Regions from separate parts of the Homo sapiens genome. Here region 1 is linked to region 2. The links come from fine-mapping of genetic effects on gene expression. Tissue or cell type: whole blood. Region 2 holds a variant in brackets; the other region holds the start of a gene. All regions are shown on one strand. Distances are between the middles of the regions.

What was found. PIP is the estimated chance that this variant, and not a neighbour inherited with it, causes the effect.
Region 1: CLK3-AS1 starts here. The variant in region 2 is fine-mapped to the expression of CLK3-AS1 in whole blood (TOPMed, PIP 0.92).

Annotation. Positions count from the first base shown.
Region 1 is chr15:74,614,178-74,618,336 of GRCh38, reverse strand. CLK3-AS1 (CLK3 antisense RNA 1) reads left to right here and starts at 2,545. Exons shown (of 9, transcript XR_007064715.1): 1 at 2,545-4,159. CLK3 (CDC like kinase 3) reads right to left here and starts at 2,501. Exons shown (of 13, transcript NM_001130028.2): 1 at 2,439-2,501. RefSeq lists enhancers at 1,136-1,746, 1,747-2,358 and silencers at 2,447-2,986, 3,407-3,726.
Region 2 is chr15:74,707,323-74,711,481 of GRCh38, reverse strand. No RefSeq gene overlaps it. Among named protein-coding and RNA genes, the nearest start is that of EDC3, 13 kb to the right of the region's middle. The variant A/G (reference allele first, on the strand shown) is at 1,783.

The DNA.
Region 1 (4,159 bases), 93 kb after region 2:
CTGTTCAGTGAGGACTTATATCCACCAAATGAAATTGCCAGGCTGGATCTGCCACCAGCGGAGAAAGCTGGCCATGTGAGGCCAGCAACCTGCTCCACCCATACGTCAATCCCTGACTGCCTCCATGGAGCCAGCCTTCTTCCCAACACTCACACTTGGCCACAGCCAACCTCCAGTCATGGTCAGTCCTGAGCTTGCCTGGCCAAGCACATTTTGTACAAACCCACTGAGGCTGCCCCATCTCACCAGCAGGGTCTGTCAGGAGAAAAGCAGCATAGAACAGCTCCCCATGCTTGAGCAGGACAGTGAGGCCTATGTGACCAAACCCCTGGGAGCCTCTCCGTGTCCCTAAGAAAGCCCTCCATCTCCCCACTAACTTGTCTTCCCCCGTGTACCTGGGAAGTCTTTGGAGATAAATATTTTGTGAAATCACCTCCCCAAAAGCTTAGATTTGTTGTTTTGGTAATCAGCTGACTAATATTTCACTGTTTTCCTGCAATTACTCTGGGTCAGGTGCCCAAGCTATGGAATGAAAGCAGGAACTCACACCCCACTAATTGACCCAGAAGATGCTCTATTGGCCAGGGCACATGTCGTGCCACAAGGCAAGTATGGTCCTGCCCATCCTCACTGGGCAGACAAACACCAGAGCTGGAGGACACAGTCACAGTCACACCACGCCAAAGACTACCTCCTGGGACCTAGAAGATTCTTATGTCCATACATATTCACATCAATGGAAAACAAAATTTCAGAGTCATATAGATGTCAATCTGAATCATGGCTTGCCACTTCTAGCTGTGTGCCTTTGAACAAATTATTACACTACTCTGACCGTCAGCTTCATCTTGCAACAAGGGAATAGTAATCTCTTACAAGGTTCTGTGAGGATTAAATATCTCTCTCCTATAAGTGAAATGCCTAGCACAGCTTTGTGCCCACAGAGGTACTAGTGGCAGCTTTTCATGAACATCTGAAAGTTCCAGGTAACACTTCAGGGCTGTGTTAAATGCCTTACAGACATTTTATAAGTCCCTTCCAAGGAAACTGGGAGGCAAGAGCTCTGGCAGAAAACTAAACTAAATCCTAGTGCTGTCACATACCAGCCTCATGACCTTAGACAAGTCACTCTAGGCCTTGGTTAGCATGCCTGGAAAATGGAGATAACATCTCTCAGCCTGGCAAAAGAGATGACAAGCATGAGAGTTATAAGGTACCACACACAAAGCAATAACAGAGAAGAGTATCCTTCCTTTAACACATTCTAGGCAAGTAAAATATTGGAAATAGCAGATATCATCCTCCCAGCCAGGGCTCTAGGGCCCATTTCTCAATTATCTCTGATTCTCGAAAACCTCAGCAAACAGCTTGTTTAAAAAGCAGCTAAAGGCCACAATTATGCTTTGGGAAGCTCTGCTCTGCACAATGAGGAAAAAGGTGATATGAAGAAAACCAAGCCAAGGATGTCAACTTTGAGCACAGGCCTTGTCGGCTTCTCATTTGCTGTTCCTGGCCAGAGAACTGGGCTGACTAGAAGTGCAGCCAGCCAGGTCAGCGGCTGCCCTCCCGGATTCCAGCCACCCCAGCACCCATGGTTATTTTTGGCTGGACTGCCCTACCACTGCAACCTCAAACCTGCCACCTCGCAAGCCTCCACCACCAACGGTGAAACGCTCCTCCTTTTCAAGGGCATCAAGAAGGGAAGCTGGAAGGCCGCCAACTCCGCCTCTGATGGGGGCCTGGTTCAGGCAATTTCCACCCCAGCTCCACATCAGGGCACCCACACCCGGAACTAAAGCTAGAGACTCCCGGGCGGGACGGAGGAGCAGCCAGGGGATTTGAACTGTCAGCTTGGCCTAGCCCATCCTCCGGGCTGGAGTGGCTCTACCACCACAACAAAACACACAGGGGAGCCTGCGCCCTCGTTCGCGTCCCTTCCTGCCGCCCCAGGTCCCAGGGGGTCTCAGAGTCCCATCCCCTGTAACCGCCACCAGTGGCGCCGAGGGGAGACCCGGGGACAGAGGGAAAGCCGGACTGGGCCAGAATCAAACTCCAGGCCGCCAAGGGAGGAGTCATCTGCGGACTAAGCCTGAAGCCAGGGGTAGGGGAGGGGTCTGAAGGGCTTCTCTGGCTCTTCTACGTCGGACCCCGACCCCATTCCGCGGGCAGGCACAGAGCCCAAACTGGACCCTTGAGCGGCCCCAGAGGCCGTTCAGGCTCCGCCTTCAACACCGTGGGGTCGAGGTCAGGGTCTGCAGTGACCGCCCTCCGGGGCAGAAGCAGCGGGTCAGGGGTGAGAGGTCGCGGCCCGATATGGGCCGAAGAGGAGAAAGAAAGGGAGTAGGCCGAGACCGAATGGCACCAGCGCGCCTGCCCCGCCGACTCACCCCCGGCCGCCGCCGCCGCTGTCGCCGCCGCGGACCCCAGCCCACACTTACCGTCTCCCAGGCTCCGGCTGCAGCTAGGCCCCACTCCCCGCTCCGAGCGCCTCTTCCGCTTCCGGCTGCGACCTCCGCCCGTGGCAGCCCCGCCCCCTCGCGTGACGCAGCCGTCGCCAGCCTCGGCTCGACCCGGCTCGGAGGCCTGGCCGCTCTAGCCCCCGACTCGAAGGCTCCGGGGCACCAGCCCTCTCCGCTCCGGCGGGCGCCGCGGCCTAGGAGACTAGTTCCGGGAGGGCCGAGGGGACGAGCCTGGCCCGGCCCGCCTCCCGCCGTGTCGCGGCGCACGTAGGTCCCCCGACCTGACAGGTGCGCGGCCCGGGCCGGCTGGGCTCTCAGAGCCGAGAGGTGGGGCCCCGACCTGGCCGTGGGGCTGGGCCCGCTCCGTCGCCCCGACCCCGCGTGGTCCGCCAACTCCCTCCTGCGCGCGGAGAGGACGGGCATTGTTCTCGGGGCCCCGGAGAGCGCGAGAGCGGCCTGAGGTCTGTGTGCCGGAGCTCGGGAAGGCGGACGCGACTCCGCTTGCGCGAAACGAGCGAACGACACATTATTATCTTGGTGTGTGCGGGTTTTTTGAAAGCCGTGGTGGCGCTCCCAGCTCGCCAGTGCGTGCGGGGCAGTTTCTGGGAAGATACCCTAGAGCTACTCTGGCGGGGCCGGAGTCTGGAGGGAGGAGATCCCCTCTCCTTGAGCCCCCTCCTGTGGAGCGGCTTCCTGCCGGCCTGCGTGGCCTCTCAGTTAAGACTCCCCCGCTAGACAAAAGCCCCGCCGGCTGCGTCTCTGGGCCACTGGACAGCCCCCTTTTGCAGAGGCCTCGAGCGTGGGGTCACCAAAATCCCTGACACCTACTGTCCCGCGCCGGGTCGGACAGGATTACGAGGCCCCACTTTCCAGATGAGAAAACTGAGGTGGGGATCTTTTGAGACCTCACTGTGAGCGTGCGCGTCCCGCCCGGTCTGGGAGTGGCGTCCCCGGCCTCGCGAGCGTCGCGCAGTGAAGCGACAGGGCGTGGCGCCTAATTGTCCCCACGCCACGCGAGGGCTAGAAACCCGCAGTCGGGGCGGACCATCCCTCCAGGCACCGCCCCCTCCTTGGGACCGCTCCGCGGGGGCGCCAAGGGTTTCCCCAGCACCGCCCCGGCGGCCGCCAGCCAGCCGCGGCCCCGCCCATGCCCCTCCCCGCGGGTCTGGGCCCGCCCCTGAAGCGGGGAGGTGTCGCAGGGGAGCCCCCCGCTTCCGAGCTGCGGCTGCGCATCAAGTCCTTCGCCAGCGGCTCTCCCTGAAACGGGGGGTTTCAAGGCGTGATTTGTAGGGGTGTTTAGTATCCCCTAAATCTCTGCCAGCTCCACCATGGCTATCCGAAGTAAACAACAGAAGCTAATTCAAAACTGGGTCCCCTTCCAAAAAATTACAAAAATTAGCCGGACTGGGTGGCGCATGCCTGTAGTTCCAGCTCCTTGCAGGGGACTGAGGCAGGAGGATCGCTTGATCCCAGGAGGTTGAGATTGCAGTGAGCTATGATCACACCACTGCACTCCAGCCTGGTCGACAGAAGGAGACCCTGTCTCAAAAAATAAACAAAAAATCGGCCAAGCGCGGTGGTTCACCCCTCTAATCCCAGTACTTTGGGAGGCTGAGGTGGATGATCACCTGAGGTCAGGAATTCGAGACCAGTCTGGCCAACATGGCGAAACCCCGTCTCTACTAAAAATACAAAAATTA
Region 2 (4,159 bases):
TATTTATTACTTGGGACTCTTTATATATTCAGATTAGATATTTGTCTGTGATGTGAAAATATTTTTCCCTGTTTGTATTTTGACTTTTTGAATATGGTGGCTTTTAATATGGATAGGTTTTTTTTATGTAGTAGAATTTCTTAATCTTTTCTGTTATGGTTTTTGGATTTTTGAACGACAATTAAGGAGGTCTTCTCAATTCCAAGATTATATGGAATTTTTACAATCAGGTATTCTGTTTTAAAGTCCAGTACTCTGTTCATTCTATGGTATGATGCCTCTCATACCATAGAATTTTTACAGCAGATTTAATTCGGGGAAAAAATTAACAGTTATTTTGAATTATGTGGCTTATGGCAGGGTAAGTTCCTTACAAACCAACCCTCCTACAGATAACAAATGTAATTTTGGGGCAAAACACACACACACACAAAACTCCTTGAAGGTTTTGGAGAGTAAACAAAAGCCTGCTCCATCAGAATAAATCTGTATCCATTCCTAGCCAAATCATAGCCAAAGGATGACAGGAAGAAGAAGAGTCAATGTGAGATCAGGCTGCATAGGCTGCTATGGTTAATCCAGGAAGTCTGTAGGTCTCCACAGAGGAGAGAGTATCTAAGGGTTTCCTCAGTGACTCAAAAACGGTTTGGCAGCTTCCATACAGGGCCCCAATTTCATCTGGAAAATGGGGGGCCCAGGAGTGCCTATCTAGCTTGTTTAAGGAGCGAAGGACACAGAGAGTTCCAAAGGAGATGCTGGATCTCCCATTCCAAGCCTGGGAACCACCTCCAGCACCACCCACCTTTAAAAGCCTTCTTGAAACTGACACTGGCTGTCGGCCTACAACAAATGTTAACTATTTCCCAGAGGGACTGGGAGCAGTATGAGTGGTTTGCTACCCTGACTTATGACAAGAAGCCTGGCCTGGGTTCTAGCCCTGGGACCTGGTCAACTTCTTCCCAGCACAGAGTGGCCTTTAGCCACTTGCTGGTTTTTCTTGTTACTTCCTGTGTCATTGTGGCCCAATTTTATTTCCTTCCTGTATTTATTCCCTTTACAAAGTGACTTTACATATCCTCCTGTGAAAATGTATGGTCTGTTTTCCCCCTCCTTGAATCTGGGCTGGCCTGGTGACTTGCCTTGATCAGTCCAATGCATTGGAGGTGATGGCATGCTAGTTTTGAGGCCAGGTCTTAAGAGACCTCATCGACCTTTACCTTCTCTTGGAATCCTGCCACGACCACAACAACAAACCCAGGGAGCCTGCTGGAAGATAAAAGACCATATGAAACAGAGAGGAATTGCCCTGGTTGAGGCCACCATAGACCAGCCAGACTCTAGCCAACTTCCTTGAGTGAGTCCAGCCAAGATCAGCCAGTCCCACCCCAATCAGCAGTATACCCACCTAAACCACAGACTAGTGAGCTCAGTACATGGTTGTTATTTTAAGCCACTAAATTTTGGGTTAGTTGTTACAAAGCAATGGACAATTGATACCCTGTGTTAATTTGGTTTCCCTGGATGAGCCATAAGCTTCTTCAGGGCACGTCAGTTTTTTTTTAAATTTAATTTTTGAACCATGTATGGTTTGAATATGTATGGTTCATACAATTTTTGAACCATACATGACACTTAAATGGGGCAGGTCAATTTCTTTGTTGCCTCCATCCCAGCTCCTAGCACTGGGATTGAGCACATTTTGGGCATTACATAAAGACTTGTTGATTGCTGGGTGTGATGGCTAATGCTTGTAATCTCAGCACTTTGGGAGGCTGAGGCAGG[A/G]GAACTGCTTGAGCCCAGGAGTTTGAGACCAGCCTGGGCAACATAGTGAGACTCCTTGGGCAACATGGTGAGATTATCTCTACCAAAAAATACAAAAAAAAAAAAAAAAAAGAGGCAGGAAGATCGCTTGAGCTTGGGAGGTCAAGTCTGCAATAAGCCATGATCATGACAGCACTCCCACCTGGGCAACAGAGCAAAACCCTGTCTTAAAAAAGAAAGAAGGAAAAAGAAGGAGAAGGAGAAGAAGAAAAGATTTGTTGATGAATCAGGTCTTCACTAGAAACTGTCTTGGTTGATTGGGTGACTTTGAGAATACTGTTTTGCCTCCCTGGATAAATGTATTTGTCTCTTGTTCATATCTCTGTTTACTCTTTTCAAGAACTGGATTAGGAATGAATAAAGATGTCAATCTCCATGTCGAAACTTTTCCAGAGCATCTCCTGGTGGGATCTGTGAAGACTGAGTCTTATGAAGACTGAGTCATAAGAAGACTTGATCTACTTTATTATAAATGCAGAAAAATTGTGAAACAGGTCTTGTGAAACATTTTTGGGTTTAATCACCATTTGTTTAAATGCTTTTACCCAGCATGCAAAATAATTCATTCACTTTCCACTTTTCTCTGTACTTCTCTTGCAGGGGGAATGTCAGATGTCAGATATTTCAGGATGTAAGACTGAAGTGTGTGGTAGTGGAGGCAGACGGGTCCCTCAGAGAACAAGGCAGCAAATAAGTATACACCTTGCAATTTTCATCCATCTGGGTTGTGGGTAACACACAGAAGTGCCCTGGACTCCTAAATACCCTGCAGAGTGGTCTAACCCTTGTGATGCTTGGGGAGGACACCTGGCTTCTAGGTCCCCAGGAATACACGGAATCTAGAAGGGAGCCCATGTTCTGTGCTATTTCCCATGATGACCCTGGAAGCTTCCCCAACCCACCCCCTCTCCTCCACCATCTGGGCTTGTGTCTGGTCCAGTTCTGTGCCTGCACAGCAAGATCATCTCTCCTGAATACTTTAATAGTTGGCTTGCAGGTCCAGGTAAGGAAAACCAAGAGCCACTTGTCTTCACGCAGCCCCTCAGGCTTGCCTGTGAAGCTGAGAGGAGATGGGGAAGCTGGCACTCCTGAAACGGTTAAAAGCCCCAGCACAGGAGTAAGAAGTGGCAACTCACTGGCATTTCTGAAAAGGCTAATTGTTGCTGAGCCAGTTGTTCTCTAAATGTGTATCCCAGGAGGGGAATGGGAGAGGGCAGACAGCAGAGGTCAAGCGGCTGGAGCTGGGAGGGGCCACACACCTGAGGCAGGGCTGCTGCCACAGCAGTGACAGCTGTCTGTTCTCTTCTCAGATGTCTTTTTTTTTTGAGATGGAGTTTCGCTCTTGTTGCCCAGGTTGGAGTGCAATGGCGCGATCTCCGTTCACCGCAACCTTCGCCTGCTGGGTTCAAGCGATTCTTTTGCCTCAGCCTCCTGAGGTGCGTGCTATCATGCACGGCTGATTTTTGTATTTTTAGTAGAGATGGGTTTTCACCATGTTGGCCAGGCTGGTCTCAAACTCCTGACCTCAGGTGATCCACCTGCCTTGGCCTCCCAAAGTGCTGGGATTACAGGTATGAGCCACCATGCCCAGCCTCAGATGTCTTTTCAAATTGGCAACACACGTGCCTCTATTAGCTAGCATCGTTCTGGATTCCCCCTTGTTCTTTTTTTTCTTAATTTTTAATTTTTTTTTTTTGAGACAGGGTCTTGCTCTGTCACCCAGGTTGGAATGCAGTGGCATGATTTTGGTTCACTGCAACCTCGACCTCCTGGTCTCAAGCAACCCTCCCACCTCAGTCTCCCAAGTAGCTGGGACTACAGGCGCATGCCACCATGCCTGGCTAATTTTTGTATTTTTTGTAGAGATGGGGTCTTGCTGTGTTGCCCAGGCTGGTCTCAAACTCCTGAGCTCAAGTGATCTGCCTGCTTCGGCCTCCTGAAGTGCTGGGATTATAGGCGTGAGCCACCGCACCAGCCCACTCTCCCTCCCCATCCCGTTCTTTATGTTCAATATCCATCCCTGCTCCAGTTTTAATTAAGAGAATTCTCTCTAGTTTAGACATAGAGAATGGAGCATGAGAAAGCAGGCCAAGGAAGAAGCAAGGATTACAGGATGTTGTGGGAAGGGTGCAGCAGGAGGGAGGGCATAAGGGAGAGAGGCATGCTGTTGTGGATGGGTGGAGGAAACAAACAAGAATCCTTGAGGTCAGGTCCTCATCCAGCCTCATCTGCTGGGATTCAGGATCCCCACTTACTGCACCTGACTACTGTTTCATGCCTAAACTTATCTCAACAAAATGAGGTCGAAAGGGAAAGCTATTTTCAGATGATTGCAGCC